Linked DNA regions of Homo sapiens: region 2 is linked to region 1. A link means that fine-mapping ties the variant in region 1 to the expression of a gene that starts in the linked region. Tissue or cell type: whole blood. Region 1 holds a variant in brackets; the other region holds the start of a gene. All regions are shown on one strand. Distances are from middle to middle.

Region 1 (5,389 bases):
CTTATCCATTCAACTTTTTTTCCCCTTTCAGGAATTAAGCCTCTTCTTTTTTTTTTCTTTTGAGATGGAGTCTCACTCTGTCACCCAGGCTGGAGAGTGGTGGTGCAATCTCTGCTCACTGTCACCTCCACCTCCTGGGGTTCAAGCAATTCTCCTGCCTCTGCCTCTCGAGTAGCTGGGATTGCAGGTGCCTGACACCACGCCCAGCTAATTTTTTGTATTTTTAGTAAAGACAGGGTTTCACCATGTTAGCCAAGCTGGTCTCGAACTCCTGACATCAAGCGATCCACCTACCTCTGCCTCCCAAAGTGCTGGGATTACAGGCATGAGCCACAATGCCTGGCCAGGAATTAAGCTTCTTACATCACAGATTTTTCTTTTGTTCACTGCTGTGCCCCAACATCTAGAACAGGCCTCATAATTGTTTTGTGCATGGATGAGGGTGGGTATTCCATTGACCATAGTGTTGAGCATGTGGATTTTTTATCCCTTTTTTTCTTTTCTTTCCATTTCTCTTCTCCATTGCTCTCAAATATATCACTGCAATGAATAACGTATCCCAAACTATTTTTCATCTGATTATCTCCCATAGTTAGTATCTTAGAGTAGAATTTATTGGGCTAAATGACATAAATGCCTAATTTTTAAAATTTGGGGATGATTTTAAGTTACAGAAAAATTGCAAAAATGGTCCAAAGTTCTTATATTTCCTTCACCCAACCTCTACTAATTTTGACATCTTACATAACCATGGTTCATTTGTCAAAACTAAGAAATTAACATTGGTATGATACTATTAACTAAACTACAGATGTTATTTGAGTTCACCAGTTTTTCCACTAAAGTCAGTATTCTGTTCCAGGATTCAATCTAGGATGCCACTGTGCATTTAGGAATAATTAGAATCTTGGTACATATTCTTAAATTTTCTCCAGATATGTGGTTCCAGTCTGTATTGCCAACAGCAATGTATGACTGCTTCTCTCTTATCAATACTTAGTATTTTCCTTTTTCAAAAATATCTTTAAAATTCAATGGTTAAAAATGGTGTCTCACTGTAATAGTTCCATTTCAATGAATTTGAAAAATGTTTTATATTATTGGCCATTTGTATTCCTAAAAATTTTTGGCCAGGCATGGTGGCTGATGCCTGTAATCCCAGCACTTTGGAGGCTGAGGCAGGTGGATCACTTGAGGCCAGGAGTTCGAGACCAGTCTGGCCAACAGGGTGAAACCTTGTCTCTACTAAAAATATAAAAATTAGCTGGGGGTGGTGGCACGTGCCTGTAATCCCAGTTACTCGGGAGGCTGAGGCACAAGAATTGCTTGAACCTAGGAGGTGGAGGTTGCAGTGAATCGAGTTTGAGCCACTGCACTCCAGCCTGGGTGACAGAGAGAGACTGTCTCAAAAAAAAAATTATATCTCAAAAATTAACTCAAGATGGATTAAAGACTTAAATGTAAAACCCAAAACTATAAAAACTCTAGAAGATAACCTAGGCAATACCATTCAGGACATAGGCACTGGCAAAGATTTCATGATAAACATACCAAAAGCAATTGCAACAAAAGCAAAAATTGACAAATGGGATCTAATTAAACTAAAGAGGTTCTATACAGCAAAAGAGACTATCAACAGAGTAAACAGACAACCCACAGAATGGGAGAAAAATTTTGCAAACTACATTCAACAAAGGTCTGATATCAAAAGTCTATAAGGAACTTAAACAAATTTACAAGAAAAAACAAACAATCTCATTAAAAAGTGGGCAAAGGATATGAACAGACACTTCTCAAAAGAAGACATACATGTGGCCAACAATTATATAAAAAAGCTCAGTATCGCTAATCATTAGAGAAATGCAAATCAAAACCACAGTGAGAAACCATTTCACACCAGTAAGATTGGCTGTTAAGAAAATAAAAAAATAACAGATGCTAGTGAGGTTGTGGAGAAAAAGGAATGCTTATACATTGTTGATGGGAGTGTAAATTAGTTCAACCATTGTGGAAGACAGTGTGGTGATTCCTCAGAGACCTAAAGACAGAACTACTTTTTGAGCCAGCAATCTATTACTGGATATATACCCAAAGGAATATAAATCATTATATTATAAAGACACATGCACACATGTTCATTGCAGCACTATTCACAATAGCAAAAACATGGAGTCAATCTAAATGCCCATCAATGATAGACTGGGTAAAGAAAATGTGGTACATATACAACATGGAATACTATGCAGCCATAAAAAAGAATGAGATCATATCCTTCACAGGGATGTGGATGGAGCTGGAGGCCATTATCCTTAGCAAACTAATGCAGGAACAGAAAACCAAATACCTCATGCTCTCACTTATAAGTGGGAGCTAAATGATAAGAACACATGGACACATAGAGGGGAACAACACACACTGGGGCCTATCTCAAGGTGGAGGGTGGGAGGAGGGAGAGGATCAGGAAAAATCACTAATGGGTACTAGGTTTAATACCTGGGTGATGAAATAATCTGTACAATAAACCCCCATAGAAGTGACTATGTTGTCTGGGGTATATACCCTGGGGTTCATGGTCGTGCACCAGGAAAATGTTAAGACATGGACAAACAAGAGGAGTTTAGGAGTGGAGGTTTAATAGGCAGAAGAGAAGAGAAAGAGAAACAGCTTTCTCTATAGAGAGAGTGGGGTCCCTGAATGGAAAAGACCTGCAGGTGGCATTGAATTTTATAGTCAGGTTTGA[G/A]GAGGCAGTGTCTGATTTACAAAGGGTTCACAGATAGGTTCGATCAGGTATGACATTTACATAGCAGATGGGGAAAGGCCGGTTGTCTCACCCTAATCTTATTATGCAAATGGGCTTTCCAGTTGATCTGAGCCATCTTGTCTGCTTCTTACTGTACACATGGCTGGCAGAGAAGGGAAGATGAAGCTGCCATCTTAAACATGTCTAGCCCCTAGTTCCTGCCAGCATTCACCCATGCAAGCTCCCAGCTTCCTCGTCTATGTCTGCCGCTTGACTTTACAGGCTGCTCTTTGTTAGACAATGATTTGGGGCTGCTTTTCATTAAAGAGAAAAGCCTTACCGAGGACTTCTGTACCCTCACTATCTGCCTAAGTGATTTCTTCTTAACTCCTGTATCACCATGACACAGTTATCCTATGTAACAAACCTGCACATGTACCCCTGAACTTAAAAGTTTAACACAATAATTTGTATCTTTTGCCTGTTTTTAAAATTAGGGTATTCTACTACTGAATTATAGCACTTACAGTTCACTAGAAGAAATACTATGCTATAGTATATGAAAATATTAAAGATACTATATATTATAGTATATATGGATTTATAAGCACTGACTTATAAGCACTTTATATATTAAGGATATTGAATTTTTGGCAAGGCTGATACAAACATTTTTTCATGATTTGCCAGCCGTTTTTTGGAATACAAGAGTTTTCTATTTTTATGTCATTAAGTGTATGCTGTTTTAGTTTTCTGATTGATTCTATTATTTTTTTAAGAGTTGGATTTTTTCTTTTTTTCTTTAAACAGCCTTATTGAAGAACATTGATGGATAAAAATTGTACATATTTAAGGTATACAACTTGATGTTTTGATGTATGTATACATTGTGAAATGGTCTTCACAATCAAACCAATTAACATATCTATCACCTCACCAAGTTACCATTTTCTTTTTCTTCTTTTATTATTATCTTTTTTTGTGGCAAAAACATTTAAGATCTACTTCTTAGAAAATTTCAAGTAAGGAATATTGTTAATCATAGCCACCAGGCTGTACATTAGATCTGTAGAACGTATTCATCCTGCATATTGAAACTTTTTATCCTTTGACCAGCATTACCGTTTCTCCCTCCCTACTGCCCCTGGCAACCACCATTCGCTTTATAATTCTATGAGTGCGACTATTTTAGGTTTCACACATCAATGGGATCAAGCAGTATTTGTTTTTCTGTGTCTGCCTTATTTCATTTAGCATAATATCCTCCAGGTTCATCCATGTTGTTGCAAATGGCAAAATTTCATTCTTTCCTGAGGCTGAATAATATTCCATTGTGTGTGTGTGTGTGTGTGTGTGTGTGTGTGTGTACACCACATTTTCTTTTATCCATTCATCCATCAGTGGATACTTACACTCTTTTCATATCTTAGCTGTTGTGAATAATGCTGCAGTGAACATGGGAGTGCAGATAAATCTTCAAGATCTTAATCTTGATTTCCATTTCTGTGGGTATATCCCAAAAGAGGGATTGCTAGATAATATGGTCGTTCTATTTTTTATTTTTTGAGGACCCTGTATACTGTTTTTGATAAAGGCTGTCCCAATATAAATTCTCATGAACACTGTACAAGGGTTCCCTTTTTCCTGCATCTTTGTCAACACTTTTAATCTCTTGTCTTTTTGATTAATAGCCATCCTGATAGTTATGAGGTGATGTTTCATTGGGTTTTCATCTGCATTTCCCTGATGATTAGTGATGTTGAGCACCATTACATATACCTGTTGGCCATTTGTATATCTTCTTTCTAGAAATGCCTATTTAGGTCCTTTGCCCATTTTATAATTGGATTATTTGCTTTTGCTATTGACTCGTGTGAGTTCCTTATATATTTTGGATATTAACTCCTTGTAAGATATATGGTTTACAAATATTTTCTCCCATTCCATAGGTTGTTATTTAACTCTGTGATTTTTTTTTCTTTGCTGGGCAGCAGTTTTTTAATTTGATGTGATTCTACTTGTCTATTTTTGCTTTTGTTGCCTGTACTCTTGCTATCTTATTCAAACATATTATTGCCAAGACAAATGTCAGAAAGCTTTTTCCCTATGCTTTCTTCTAGTAGTTTTACGGTTCTGAGTCTTATGTTTAAGTTTTTAATCCATTTTGAGTTTATTTTTGTTTATGGTGTCAGATGAGGGTCTAATTTCATTCTTTTGCCTGTGAATATCCAGTTTTCCCAACATTAGTTATTGAAGAGACTATCCTTTCACCATTGTGTGCTCTTGGCACTCTAGTGAAGATTGACTGTGAATGCATGGATTTATTTATGGGCTCTCTATTCTGTTCCGTTAATCTATATGTCTGTTTTTATGTCAGTACCATCGCACTTAGGTTACTGTAGCTTTGAAATATCTTTTGAAATCAGGAAGTGTGATGTCGCCAGCTTTATTATTCTTTCTCAAGATTGCTTTCAACCTGGGCAACATGTCAAATCTCCATCTCTACACACACACACAAAATACAAAAATTAGCTGGGTGTGGTAATGTGCATCTGTAGTTCCAGCTATTCAGGGGGGTGGGGGGGTGGGGGGGAAGGATCACTTGAGCCCCAAGGCTGGAGTGAGCCATGTTTGCGCCACCACACTCCA
Region 2 (5,389 bases), 23 kb before region 1:
ACTTTCTGTGAACTCTTATTACATGCCAGACACTGTGTAAGTGCTTGACATATGCTTGATATATGTAACTGCTTGACATATGCATGAATTCATTGAATTTATTCAATTCTCTCCCTACGAGGCCAGTACTAGCATTAGTCTACTTTAGAGATGAGAAAACCGAGACACAGAGGTAAAGTCCCATGTTAATACTGCATGAGGCAGAGCTAGCATGCAGACCATCCAACTTCTTATATTGAACTGTAGCCCATCTGTACTCAAAACACATCAACTAATTCGTCTCTGGCACTCAATAAGCAAAACAGATTTACCCTATGCCAAAAGCTGTTGGTCAAGGAGCATAAAGAATGAAGCAATACTGCCTAGAACTGCATGCTACAGGGTAGGGTGCAAAAGCAGATAAGCTAAACCACTGCAAAGCATTGCTCACAAATGTTTTAGAGGATTGGAGCTGTCAACTAAAGTAACTGAGGTTTTTCCAAACTGTGTTACATAAGGATGGAACTGTTTCTTATGGTCGTCCACTTTATAGATTTCTGGTCTTTATAACCTTTCAGAATGACAGTTCCATTATGTGTCCAGCCTATGGCATAAATAGCTTTTTTTTCCCTTAAGTTTCAAAAGGCACTCCCTGGTCCACCTATTTAAGAGTTTGATTGACAAGCACAAGCCTGTGTTCTCCATTAATGTCAATCATTTCTCCTTACTCCTTTGTCAGGTGAAAGCTCCAACACCATACCTGTAATTTTAGGTATTGCCCCTCTGCCTTTTAATGCAACACAACATCCATTTTTGGCCAATGATGGATGCAGCATTCAAAGAACTAAGCACTCTGATTTTCTACAAAAGTTGAAGTGACGCTTTCTACTTAGTTTCTAATCTTTTTCCACTGCTGTCTTCAAGGACACCAGCCACAAGTTTCTGGATCCATTTCCCATAATGTTCCTGGAGGCTGCTTAAGGCCCTAATATTTTGTTACTAAGATGTTGTTAAAATGTTTCTAAAAAACACATTGTTCTATTCCTGCTCACAACAAATCTCACTCTCACAGCCTTGGGAGATTTGGGTGGAGCCTGGGAATACAAACGTACTCAAACTAAACTTTCTCTTGAGTATAACCTGTGGAACTTTTAGGTTAAAGGGAGTTACTCCTCCCAGTCCACATACAACATAGATTATGGGGATACTATAACCTAGCAGCCAGGGGATCCACACAATAAAAAGGGCAATGTATGTCCAAAATTATGGTCTCAGAGGAAATGGGAGACTGTAAGAAGTCATATAAATAAAACATTACAGGGATATAGCTTTTAGAAGAAAATGCAATCAAATAAAAACGTTGTAAAAAACTTGCCAAGGAGAAGAAAATTGAGATATATAATACCTAATAGTAAAAGGTTTTTTTGTTTTTGTTTTTAAAAAGCAAGCATGAAAGCGTGGACTTGGTTGGAAACAAGACATTGAAAAAGTAAACTCTCTCATGACTGTAGCCACAGTAGTACTGTCCCCAAGAAAAATTAGATGACTATAACCGCCTTCCCCAACAAACCAAGTTGCAAAGGACTGAAATGCTAAGAATATAATCAGCTAGGATACGAAAACCATGGTTCTCCAATGTGAGCTGAAATGGAATAATTTTTAAAAAAAAAAAGTACAAGCATTACAGTAGCCAGGTAATCAATCACTCGCACAACTGAGCCTGAACCACAGCTCAGCAGAACAATGGAAAAGCCCTGAAGATGTACAATGGATAAAAGACTTGTTCCGGCTGGGTGCAGTGGCTAACGCCTGTAATCCCAGCACTTCGGGAGGCCAGGCGGGCGGATCACCTTTGGTCAGGAGTTCGAGATCAGCCTGACCCACAAGGTGAAACCCTGTCTCTACTAAAAATATAAAATTAGCCGGGCGGGGCGCCTGTAATCCCAGCTACTCGGGAGGCTGAGGCAGGAGAATCGCTTGAACCCGGGAGGCGGAGGTTGCAGTGAACCGAGATCGCGCCATTGCACTCCACTCCAGCCTGGGTCAAAGAGACTCCGACTCAAAAAAAAAAAAAAAAAAAAAAAGAGAGAGACTTATTCCGCTGCAGCGCCAAAATCGCAAGCTCAGAACTCTGCACAGACGGCACTATTTCAAAGGTCAAAACCAGGACCTCAGCAATCTTCCATTAGGTGACTTTACAAAGTGCTACAAAAGTCATGACTACTACTATTCTTTACAACCTAGCAAGCGAAGGAAAGACCGGGGAGAGCCGGGAGGCCGTTTAGGAGAGAAAACTACTTTGACAAAGACTGCACAATTACAGAATAAAAATCAAAAATAACTGATAGAATTAAAACTGATCGCAGTTCATGTCTTTGGCAGCAAACTCCCGTTTGAGCCGAGCAGGAACAAACGCGTTATGCCTGAACCTTGTGCACATACAATTCTTTCTTCTCTTGCACGGCCCGCTTCCAAAATGCATTCACCGCCACTCTCCATGGAACCTTCAGCGGGCCCTGGGGGCAGCCAGAATTTTCCAAACGAGGAAGCTGAGGATCGGCCCAGAACCCTGAATTTTGAGGGGAGTGAGACTTGGGCCCTCACAGGCCCAGACGCGAGATATTTCAACTACACCCGGGAGGCGCGGGGTGAAAACTCCCTGGTGTCGGGCGGGTGCAGGCCCCTCGCGGCCGGTCGCGCCAGAGCTTCCACCTCAGGGTGGGCGGCCAAGCGCGTGGGCACGCTGCAGGGAGGGCCGCTCACCTGGGCAATGCCGGCGCCCATCAGCCCGCCGCCGATGACCGTCACGTGCTTGACGATTATCTTCTTGGCCGAGGCCGAGGCGGTGGACGAGGAGGACACGGAACGCATGAACTGCCTGGTGACGAAGGCCATGGTGTGGCAGCGGCGGCGACAGCGAGGAGACCCGGGCAGGGAAGACGCGCGAGGCGGGCAGCCGCGGAAAGCCAGACTCTGGGGGCGGGGACCTACGCGGCCCTGCAGCCCGCGCGCCCCCGGCGTCCCCGTGACGCCACAAGGCGGGGGCGGGGCCTCGAGTCCCGCTCTGCCCATTGGCCCTGGCTGTAACGTCCCAGCGTTGAGCGGGTATACACGCGCGGGCTCGCAGCTGTCAGCAGCCGGAGCCCGAGTGAGCGCGGGCTTGAGACCTGCTGAGCAGCGGGACCTGGCGGCTGGCGTTCTGGTGTGGGGCCGAGAACAGACCCTTCTTCTGAAAAGCCACTGGCCCCTTGTTCTATGAAGTGAGTGGTGTTGACTCTGTAAAATGCTATCCTTTGATGACATGTGCATATCTAGGCTCTGAAGAAATATGTGCTGCTTGGCTGTGTTGGTAATGGACCCAAAATGTGCACCGTTGGTTGATGTCACCAAATAATCAACTCGGGATTATTTTAATCCCGTGGACAGTGATTGTTTCCCCTAAAAGGGAAATAAATGTAGACTGCGAACACCCAAAACAAATGTCTAGTGACCATGAGTTACAATGCAAAAATCAGGCTCAGGGAAGGTAAAGAGAGAGTTGACCTTTAGTTACCCATCTTGACGTTGGACGTCTATCAGTGCAGTGAACATGTGGACGGTTTAAGGTCATAGAGCAACCTTTCTGGAATAACGAATACTATTAGAAAGCATAGGAAAGAAATGTCTTGTCAAATAATGGAAGACTGGATAGCAGCTTGGCCAATCTTCTCACTCAGGTGAATACTTTCTAATTACTGTAACTTAGTGATATAGGATTCTTATTAATTTATTTGCTTTATGTTTAAATATTGTTAACAAAAAAACTTCAAACAAGTTTAGCAGAGTTTATCTGAGCAAAGAAAGCATGAATCATGTAGTATCCTGAGCCAGTAAAGGTTCAGAGAGCTCCAGCCCCTAACAGTGGGCAAGCCGCGTTTATAGACAATATTTTTTGCAGCCTGTAATGGGCTAAAAGCTCCGCTGCGGTGATTGGCCAAGACTTGGCCACTTGTTAGAAGAACGTACTCTCAAATTACATTGCAGTTTATTTACATATTAGGTTTGATTATGCTTTGCTAGGTAGGGAGGCAACTTTAGGCCAGATTTAATTTAATAACAGTTTCCTCCTTTGGGTCAGCCTCTCAGTTTTACGAGATTGACCAGAACCTTGTTTTGTCTCAGTATGGAAGTCACAATGTCAAATTAGTTGAGTGATTATACTTTCTTCATGTTGTTATTCTAACTGTAATAACACCATTTGGTGTACAAAGGATGGCTGCATAGAGACATTGAAGACTCTCGAGGGGACAACAACACATCAGGGAGACTATTATGGCCACGAGAAGGAGTATAGCAATAAACTGAGGTACACACCTTAACAGGAGTCTCCACAAACTGAACTGATCAAAATTAAACAATTCAAAGTTCAGGCAATAAAGATAGTTCAAAGTATTTGAGTCCAATTGGTCATGGTCTAATTTAGGGCATTATGGCGGTTAAGGACTGCTAGAAATGCTTATTTCTTGGTGCCGTAAAGAAATAGCACTTGAACATAAAATTAATTTCTTTAGCAAGGCCATTTTTACTTTCTGCGGAAAGAGTACACTCGCCAGCAGTTTTGCCACAAGAGTACACCGAACAAAGGAGGCAGGGTCATTTATAACCTGACCCGTCCACCTTACTGTTGTGACTGGTTTCCATTGGCTAGAACGGGACTTCACATTCTGTATTTGTCTTGATTGGCTAGCAACTTAGAAATTCTTAAAAGAGGCAAAGGCAGAGGAGAACAAAGGAAGGAGGAAGTAACTTGTGGAATGCTGAGAAGGGAAAAACACCTCTAAATAAGGAAGAGGAACAGGCTATGACCTAATGCCCACTTGGACCAGTATAAGCATGCCAGGGCAAATATTTAGGCTAAATTGTGGGAGCTAAGAACATAAAGTACATTGATTTCTTTATTACAGCTAGCAGATATTTAAGAATGTTAACAGGTCTTTGAATAAATTTTGCTTCTAAGAGAGGTTACTATTTATTCCTAATCAGATGAGGAGGAAAGTCTTTGAAAAGGAACCTCTACTTTACTTTTTACAAGGACCATAGTTCACTGAATGACCTGATTCAGCCTTATGGCCTGATTTAAAGAGGTATCCATTTTTGTAATTAGCCTGGTAACACAAGTTATAATAACCTGGAGAGCCACTAAAGAAGCATAAAGATTAGAAAAGTTTGGAATAGCCTAGCTTGCCTTTCACTACTCAGGATGCCTACAAACCAACCATTAGCTGCTCCCATAAATGTATCATGTGTTCCTTTCCCCTGAGAAGTTTCCTTAATATATTCAGTGGCAGTGTTTAGAGAAACAGCAGTATCTGCCACCTTTTAAATTAAGTTTTCTATAGTAGTAAAATTAGAGGAAAAATAAGTGCAACAT

Evidence for each region. PIP is the estimated chance that this variant, and not a neighbour inherited with it, causes the effect.
Region 2: it holds the start of HADH, and the variant in region 1 is fine-mapped to the expression of HADH in whole blood (INTERVAL, PIP 0.98).

The regions. Positions count from the first base shown.
Region 1 is chr4:107,964,568-107,969,956 of GRCh38, reverse strand. The region is part of intron 1 of LOC107986298 (a long non-coding RNA gene); the gene reads left to right. Among named protein-coding and RNA genes, the nearest start is that of HADH, 23 kb to the left of the region's middle. The variant G/A (reference allele first, on the strand shown) is at 2,741.
Region 2 is chr4:107,987,418-107,992,806 of GRCh38, reverse strand. It overlaps HADH (hydroxyacyl-CoA dehydrogenase), which reads right to left and starts at 2,918. Exons shown (of 8, transcript NM_005327.7): 1 at 2,743-2,918. The coding sequence starts at 2,874. RefSeq lists a silencer at 2,922-3,151.